2 separate regions of the Homo sapiens genome follow, and region 1 is linked to region 2. Evidence: fine-mapped expression QTL. A gene starts in region 2. The other region holds a variant in brackets. All regions are shown on one strand. Distances are between the middles of the regions.

Region 1 (4,397 bases), 28 kb before region 2:
ACCATAAGGTCCATCTCACCTTCACTGCAACAAAGAAGGGTTGTTAAAGCTGGACACAGGTAAAGAAAAATTAAATTCTTGGATATTATGTTTCAAAAGCTTACTTTAAGAAAATCTAGGTTTCTAAGAACTCTAGACAAAAAGTTTAAGCCATAAATAATAGATTTGGAATGACTCAGAGTCAGTCACATTTTATACTCTGTTACTTGTAATAGGTTCCAAATTTCATATATGTACATCAGGACTAGATTTGATGACATGTGATAGAAAACTTAAAATGTGGCTTAAAGCCGCAAAGTTATATTCTTTCACATAAAAAAACATTCAGAGGGTAATTCCTATTGTCCGCTCCACTTTCACCCTCAAGCTCACCTCATCATCCCAGATGCCTTTGGAATGTCTGGGACTGTGTCCACATGCCGGGGGCGGGGGAAGGGGCAGAGCAAAAGAGACAGCGCCCAGTGAGCCAGCACCTTCAAGAAGCCTTCCTGGAAGTCATGTTCAAGACCCAGAATTTGGTCTTATGGCCCTGCCTAGTTTAAAGGAAATCTAAAAAATATGGATTTTATTCTAAATGGCACTGTGCCTAGGTAGAAATTGGGGCTCATTACTATAAAGGAAGGTTAAAATGGAAACTATGTAAACACCTATTGATCTCTACCACCACTAGCTTTTCTCCCACCAGAGAACATAATTTTCTCTGGGTTGTGGGTTAAGAGCCTTTAGAGGAATTGTTTTGAGAGGGTGAGACAGTAGAGCCTGAAGATAAGGGGAACCAATCTGAAAGGACCAGGCGGACAAAGGCGAGGTGGTATTCATAGACCACCTAGAGTGAGTCTCAGGGAATGATCTATGAAGAAAGTCAGTGCCCTGCCACTACCCAGGTTCCATTCAAGTGAGCACCTTATCTTACTGTGCAGAAGGCCTTTGTCAATCATTCTGACCGCTACTTTCCGGAAAGGGACCCCCAAAAGCACAGTGGCCTGTTACTGCACCAGAAGTATTATAATATGTTCTGCTATGCTCTGAGACTTGGCATGGCCTGCATAGGCAATTCCCCTTACAGTGGCTCTGGACATTCAGAAGACCACTGAAACAGAAATTATGACACCAACCATCAAGATGCATCCTGATTTAAAAAAAAAAAAAAGCACTAGCACACTTCACACCAGCACTGGACTAGCTCAAGATTGCTCAGAACCAAAACTGGTGAACAATATCCTCTTTATAAGATGTAATCCTGCCAGCATTGGTTCCTAAAATATTTTATTCTGAGGTAATTACTTGTTTCAGACCATTTAAGAAAACCTACAGATAACTAAACATAAACCTTGGTGTAATATCCCACCCACTAGAGTGATTAAAATGAAAAAGAATAGCAATACCAATTTTTGGTGAAGGAATGCAGCGCCTGGAACATAGGTAGGTTGATGCAAAAGTAATCGTGGTTTTTGGCTGGGCGCAGTGGCTTATGTCTGTAATCTCAGCACTTTGGGAGGCCGTGGCAGGCAGATCACCTGAGGTCAGGAGCTCGAGACCAGCCTGGCCAACATGGCGAAACCCTGTCTCTACTAAAAATGCAAAAATTAGCCACGCCTGATGGTGGGCGCCTGTAATCCCAGCCACTTGGGAAGCTGAGACAGGAGAATCGTTTGAACCCGAGAGGCAGAGGTTGCAGTAAGCTGAGACCGCGCCATTGCACTCCAGCCTGGGTGACAAGAGCAAAATTCAGTCTCAAAAAAAAAAAAAAAGGAATTGCAGTTTTTGCATTGGAAGTAATGACTAAAACCACAATTACTTTTGCACCAACCTAGTACATTGCAAATGGAAGCGTAAAATGGTGCAACCACTTTGGAAACAATTTGGCTATTTCTTATATAAAGTTAAACAGACATAGAAATTCCACTCCTAGATATTTACCAAAAGATGTGAAAATCTGTATCTATAAAAAGGCTTACACCTAAATATTTATGCAGTTTTATTCATAATATCCATCAAAGGTGAATGGCTAAATAAATTTATATGGTGGACTACTGGCCACCAATAGAAGGGAACAAACCACAATACACAACATAATGTAGATGAAATCACAGACAGTGAAAGAAGCTGGACACAGAAGAGTACACATTATTCAATAACACCTTTATTCTAGAACAGGCAAAGCTAATCTACAGTGATAGAAATCAAAACAGTGATTACCTAAGAAGAGGAGGGGAGGAGACTGCAATGGGGCTGAGGGAACTTTCTGGAGAGGTGGAAAGGTTCTGGGGAGGCGGAAAGGTGGAAAGGTTGTACGTGTAGATTGGTTTTCTCTCCGGCCAAACTCAGCAGCTGGAGTCACCCCAAGAATGGTGGCAGGGGAACTCCTTCAAGGGACCGTCCCAAACCTTCCTGAGATTGGGCCTGCTTGGGTTTCAGAGAAGGAAGCACTAAACTCCAGAGTGACCAATCTGAAGCATTTATTAGGGGAACTTACAAGTTACACAGGAGGAGGCTGCAGCAGGTCCGCCTGAGCGACAGTGAGGGGGAGATGTTCTTCCTGAGTATGTCCGCAATGAGGGGTCAGGTTATGGAGTTTATGTGAGAGCTTAAAGAATTTTTCCGAAGGTGGACGCCTTCTACGTGTATAGTAACATAATCAATCTCTGTGTTTCCAGCAACAACC[T/C]AAACAGCTTTATCAGTAGTGGGGAATGTTCAACGCCCTAGCTTGGATTCAAGGATGCAGGAAAAACATGTAGCTGGCCAGGTCACAGAGTAGTCAAGGCATTCTGTTTTCCTTGGTCAGGACACAGGAAGAAAGCAGAGACGATATTGGGGGACCCAACAATTGGAGTAGTGGTTGATGATTACGGATGTGTACTTGAGTCAAAAGTCATCAAATTGTAACCTAAAAATGAATTTTATTTTTACAGTCATATTACTAAAAAAAAAGAACTTCCGTTCATCAAAAGACACAACAAAAAGCAAACCACAGAGTGAGAGAAGCTACTTGCAATACATATATCCAACAAAGGGCTCATATCCAGAATTCATAATGAATTCTACACCCAATAAGAAAACAACAGACTGCCCAGTAGAATAATGAATGAAGGATTTGAAGATACAATTCACAAAAGAGGATGTCCAAATGGCTAACATATATTAGAATGTGCTCAATATTATTAATATCCAGCACCACTAGACACACACTGTAATGACTAAAATTAAAAAGACTGTCAGTACCAAGTATTGCCAGGAGTGTAAATTGCCCCAACCACTTAGGAACACAGTTTAGCATCATCCAGTAAAGTTGAAAATATGCAAACACTAAAACCTTGTAATCACACTGCTAGTTATATACTCAACAATAATGCATATTTACATGTACCAGGAGATATCTACAACAACATTTATTGCACTACCATTTGTGATAGCAAAAAATTTAAATATTTAGACAAATAACAATCTATAGTAGACTCGATAAATAAATTGGGCTATATGAATATTTCATACAACAATGAAAATGAATGCCTCATAGCTATAAACAATAAAATAGATGAATCTCACAAATACAAGACTGAGCAGAAGAGATCAGACTTTATCATAAAGAATTTAAAAACAAATTTAAAAAACTAAATTATACTGTTAGCTTACTTAGGTAGTAAAATTAAAAAAAGAACCAGGAAATGATTGCCATAAACATCCAAATAGTGGTCAATTCAGGGGGTTGAGACTGGGAAGTGTAAAGATGCTAGCAAAGTTCTATTTCTTGAACAGGTGGTATTTATACAGATTTTACTTCATAATAATTTCTTTAGCTGTACAATTATATCTTATTCATTTGTGTATGAGTGTTATATTTCACAACACAATTTTTTAAAGAGGCATGGGAGGCGATGACATAATAACATAATAGATATCAGTTCAATGAACAAAACAAAGTGGGAATCAAAGAGAGGATGCTATTTATAAGAGGAAATATTTGAGCATTTTTATTATTGAAGATTAAAAATGCAAGAGAGAATTAATGTTATGAAATCTCAGAGAAGACAGAGGATGGAATCAAGTATGTATAGGCAAGTGGTCTTGCCTTAAAAAAGACAACCATTCTGTCTCCAGATTAGGAAGGAGAAGGAAATAATAATACAAAGAATATTTGAAACAGAGAAAGTATATGGAAGGTCATATTGGGTGATCTCTGGCAGTTAGAATGTTATTGATGGAGATTTTGAAGACTTATATTTGTCATCATAGGTTTTGTTTTGTTTTGTTTGAAGTTTCAATGTACATTCATACATAGACAAACCAATGTCTTTCCAGAATCCAGAAGAGGAATTTAACTTTCTCTAGTAACACAATTTGTATTCATTTCACATAACTCAATATTTGCTGTGCCTCCAATAAGTAAGGTCCTACCC
Region 2 (4,397 bases):
GTAGCAAGGATCACAGGCGTGTGCCACCATGCCCAGCTAATTTTTGTATTTTTAGTAGAGATGGGGTTTCGCCATGTTGGCCAGGCTGGTCTTGAACTCCTGACCTCAGGTGATCTGCCCGCCTCGGCCTCCCAAAGTGCTGGGATTACAGGCATGAGCCACGCGCCAGGCCTAGACTACCTTCTTAAAGGTTAACCAATTTATGGTCAGAAAGCCAATTTTAATGGTAGCTACAATATAACATTAGAACGATAAATCTCATGCCCCAAACATGTACATAATGTATCTGAAAGCTAAGTGAAAACTGAGTCACTTTCTCATACATGGCAGTGTTTTTTCTTTTTTTTTTATTCAATAGAAGCCACATACAGGGACAGTAAGTTTCACCTATCATCAAAAAATAGTCAAAAGAACCTCTCTACACTGTAAGCTCCTAGAGGCCATGGGTAGCGGTGTCTCTGAAACCCTGACAAAGTCTGTAGGCAGCAGGGATTCAATAAATGTGGGCTAAATGACTAATAAAGCCCTCAAGAGCTTGTTTAAAAAAAAGTATCAGAAGGCCAGGCACCTGTGGCTCACGCCTGTAATCCCAGCACCTTGGGAGGCCGAGACGCGCGGATCACGAGGTCAGGAGATTGAGACCAGCCTGGCCAACATGGTGAAACCCCGTCTCTACTAAAAATACAAAAAATTAGCCAGTCATGGTGGCAGGCGCCTGTAGTGCCAGCTACTCGGGAGGCTGAGGCAGGAGAATGGTGTGAACCCAGGAGGTGGAGCTTGCAGTGAGCCGAGATCGCGCCACTGCACTCCAGCCTGGGGGACAGAACAAGACTCTGTCTCAAAAAAAAAAAAAAAAAAAAAAAAAGGCCGGGCGCAGTGGCTCACGCCTGTAATCCCAGCACTTTCGGAGGCCGAGGCGGGCGGACCACGAGGTCCGGAGATCGAGACCATCCTGGCTAACACGGTGAAACCCTGTCTCTACTAAAAAAAAAAATACAAAAAATTAGCCGGGCGTGGTGGTGGGCGCCTGTAGTCCCAGCTACTCGGGAGGCTGAGGCAGGAGAATGGCGTGAACCCGGGAGGCGGAGGTTGCAGTGACCCGAGATCGCGCCACTGCACTCCAGCCTAGGCGACAAAGCAAGACTCCGTCTTAAAAAATAAAAAATAAATAAAATAAAATAAATAAAATTCAGCCAGGCATGGTGGCACGCGCCTGTGATCCCAGCTACTCGGGAGGCGGAGGCTGCAGTGAGTCCAGATGGATCCACTGCACTCCAGCCAGGGCAACAAGAGAGACTCCACCTAAAAAAAAAAAAGTATCAGAAAAGCAATCAACTTGGAAATAGAATGCAGATAAAGTTGAGGTTGAGCACTGGATAAATGAAAAAGTTCAGTCAACAAACATTTACCTACTACCTACCAGGTGCCTGGAGTCATTACCAAACAGACCCTGCCCTCCTGCAACTTAAGACCTACAAATACCCGTGTAGAGTTAGAACCGGGGAGTGCTCTCGGGGGGGCCTAGGGCATAGTGCTTAGGAAGGACACAGAACAACGAGGGGGCGTCAGCACAGGCTTCTTTATAGGGTGAGATCTGAGGGGTGGGAGGCTGGGGGAGGGCCTGGGGGTGCGCACGCAGGGGCCCCCGGCTCCGGGAGCGGGACCGGCGGCAGAGGCCCCAGTGGGCCGCGCCGCTCTCTTAGTGTTTCTGGGGTCGCCTCACACTCCCGCCCGCTGCGACACCACTCCGGCCTCCGGGCGTGTCATTCCATCATTCAACTAACCCGGTCCCCATACGTGGGCCCAGGCGGGGTGCCCAGGCTCCGTGGTGGGGAGGAGACGCAAAGCGAACGCGGGTGGCCCCTGAGGGCGCCCTGTCCCTCCCGCGCGCGGGTAGTCACCTGAGCGGCTCAGCACCTCCCACTCGTGGGGCCTGCAGAAAATCGCGGCCAGGACCGAGAGCTCCTCCTGCACAGGCTCCGCCATGGCTGTGGGCCCCACCGCCTCAGCGCTTCCCCTTCCGCTGCCGCAGCCGCCGCCTCCACCGGCCAGGAGCAGCACTGCCCGCGGCCACCCGGGGGCGCCCCGCGCCTCCGCAACCGGGCGGGACGGGGGCGGGGCGAGACGGAGCTGGGGCGAAGCGAAACGGGACGTGGGCGAGGCGAGTCCGGGCGAGGGTCAGGGCAGACGGGGCGGGCGGGGCCCTTAGAAGTTCCGCCCAGAAGCTCCTGCTCAGTAACTACAGACGCGAAGCTCAGCCTCTCGGTTTGGGAATTTTCTTGGAGGCCGAGGCCCTGCGCCTCTGTCTGCACCCAAGGCGACCGCCCAGCTTACCCCCGGCTCTTCTGAGCACAGGGAGGCCTCCCAGCAAAGCCTGAACCCTCTAAGTTTAGCTGCAGGCTTCGAACCCCGACCGTCCCCGCCGAGCCTTGGGCTGCTGAGGTGGGGATGAACTGGGCGAAAGACACTTGGGAGTTAGGAAGAAACAAACAAGCAGGGAAGTGACCAGGAGACAAGGTGAGACTTTGCCCGGCTCAGGTCTGAACTGAGTGTTGGAGATAACCACAGTTAACAAAATAAACAAAATTATTCGCCCCCGTGGAGCTGTTAGCAACCCTGGTGCCTGGGAAGCCTGGAAGAGGCTCGGGTTAGTAACAACCTCCAGGATGCCCTCCGAACTGGTACTGGCGCCGGGACTCTAGACAAGGTCCAGATTCCCGGGCCCTTCCCCTTACGGGTGCAAAAAGGGAGGGTCAGGACCTGCCAGTCCTGGCTTCAGGATGTTGACTGGACGGACCTGGACTCATGGGAACTGTGCGCCAAAGTCCTGGGAGCAAAGTGTCATAACGCTCCTCGTTTGTCTCTTGCCTTCACAGGAGACAGCCCTGCTGCAAGCGGCCAGTGGGAATCCTTGGCCTTTGGGGGTATGATCCAAGAATGTAAACGCTAGCTTTTCAGTGTTTTCGATTTCGTGATATTCAATGCATACAATACAATGTGACTCTTGAAGCTTAATAATAAAATTATCATTCTTGAGCCCAGCACCTAAATTTTAAAATGTGAGCAATACCAATAGGGTAACAGAATAAGCAATCCATTCTGTTTTGACTATAGTGAACAAGATTACAAGACTTATCTGCAGTTAGGTCTGTCTCTCGGATGTTTGCCTGGTCTTTTTGCTGTTCAAATAACAGTTTAAAATTTGGCAGTCCCCACAAGCAGCTGGTCTTGCTCATGGAGTTCTCACAACTTTTGTTTGTATGAGAAATCACATTTCATGAGATAAATCTGGGAATTTAGGTTGTTAGGCAGTGACTCCAGTCACTGACCTACGGAAGTCAGAACAAAGTTGGCTGATTTTAAAACCCTGCATCCATTCACCATTACCATTCCCGCTGTTGGTAAAAAAGGAATCTGATAAAGGAAAAGATACTGGCTTCCCGGAACAGAAAGGAAACCTAACAAGATGGACTGCAGGGAAAATGCTTTTCAGAAGATGCCATGGGATTTCAGTGACCCCGAGTAATTAGGAGCACATAATTGGGAAGATGAAGGCTTATTTAAATGCAGTTATCTCTGATATGGCCAATTGGCTTGAAGAAAAAAAAAACTCCTTTATTTCCAAAATAACAGACGTTCCAGCAGTTCAGTAGGTTCATAATTAACTGCTAAAGAGATTGAACAAAAGAATACGTTTTTAATTTAAAATATTACTAAGTTATTTTAATTCGAAATCCAGTGTTACTATGAAAAGTCAAACAATTTGGTTTTTGACTTATTTATTGAAAATAATCTATAAAATAGGCTGGGCGCAGTGGCTCATGCCTGTAAGCCCAGCACTTTGGGAGGCCGAGGCGGGTGGATCACCTGAGGTCAGGAGTTCGGGACCAGCCTGACCAACATGGTGAAATGCTGTCTCTACTAAAAATACAAAATTTAGCTGGGCGTGGTGGCAAGCACCTATCATCCCAGCTACTCAGGAGGCTGAGGCAGGAGAATCGCTTGAACCCGGGAGGCGGAGGTTGCAGTGAGCCGAGATCGCACCTTTGCACCACTCCAGCCTAGGCAACCAAGCGAGACTCCGTCTCAAGAGCAAAAAAAAATCTATAAAATATTCAAATAGTTTTTACTTATTTTTAATTTTCCAAATTCACTATAAGTGAGATGAGTGAAATAACATGAAGAGCAAAATTACAGCTGTAGGAAGGATTAGGAGGCAGTTGCTAAAGCCTGCTGTCAGCAATAGGTCCATGAAAATTGATTAAAGAGTACATCAATCTATGATTTAAAATTTTCTTGTCAATAGGTTTCTTCTTTGCTCTTCCTTTCTCAGTTGATTTCTTAATCTGCTTTTCATACCTCATTTAGCATGTTTAAATAAAAAAGAAGTCAATGTG

The links. PIP is the estimated chance that this variant, and not a neighbour inherited with it, causes the effect. A credible set is the group of variants that fine-mapping cannot tell apart.
Region 1: its variant is the best candidate, but not a certain one, in a credible set for the expression of RWDD3 in lung (GTEx, PIP 0.70).

The regions. Positions count from the first base shown.
Region 1 is chr1:95,259,647-95,264,043 of GRCh38, reverse strand. No RefSeq gene overlaps it. Among named protein-coding and RNA genes, the nearest start is that of RWDD3, 28 kb to the right of the region's middle. The variant T/C (reference allele first, on the strand shown) is at 2,666.
Region 2 is chr1:95,231,820-95,236,216 of GRCh38, reverse strand. RWDD3 (RWD domain containing 3) reads right to left here and starts at 2,007. Exons shown (of 4, transcript NM_015485.5): 1 at 1,902-2,007. The coding sequence starts at 1,986. The region is part of intron 7 of TLCD4-RWDD3 (TLCD4-RWDD3 readthrough); the gene reads right to left. RWDD3-DT (RWDD3 divergent transcript) reads left to right here and starts at 2,235. Exons shown (of 4, transcript NR_125949.1): 1 at 2,235-2,517. RefSeq lists silencers at 1,547-1,726, 1,937-2,266.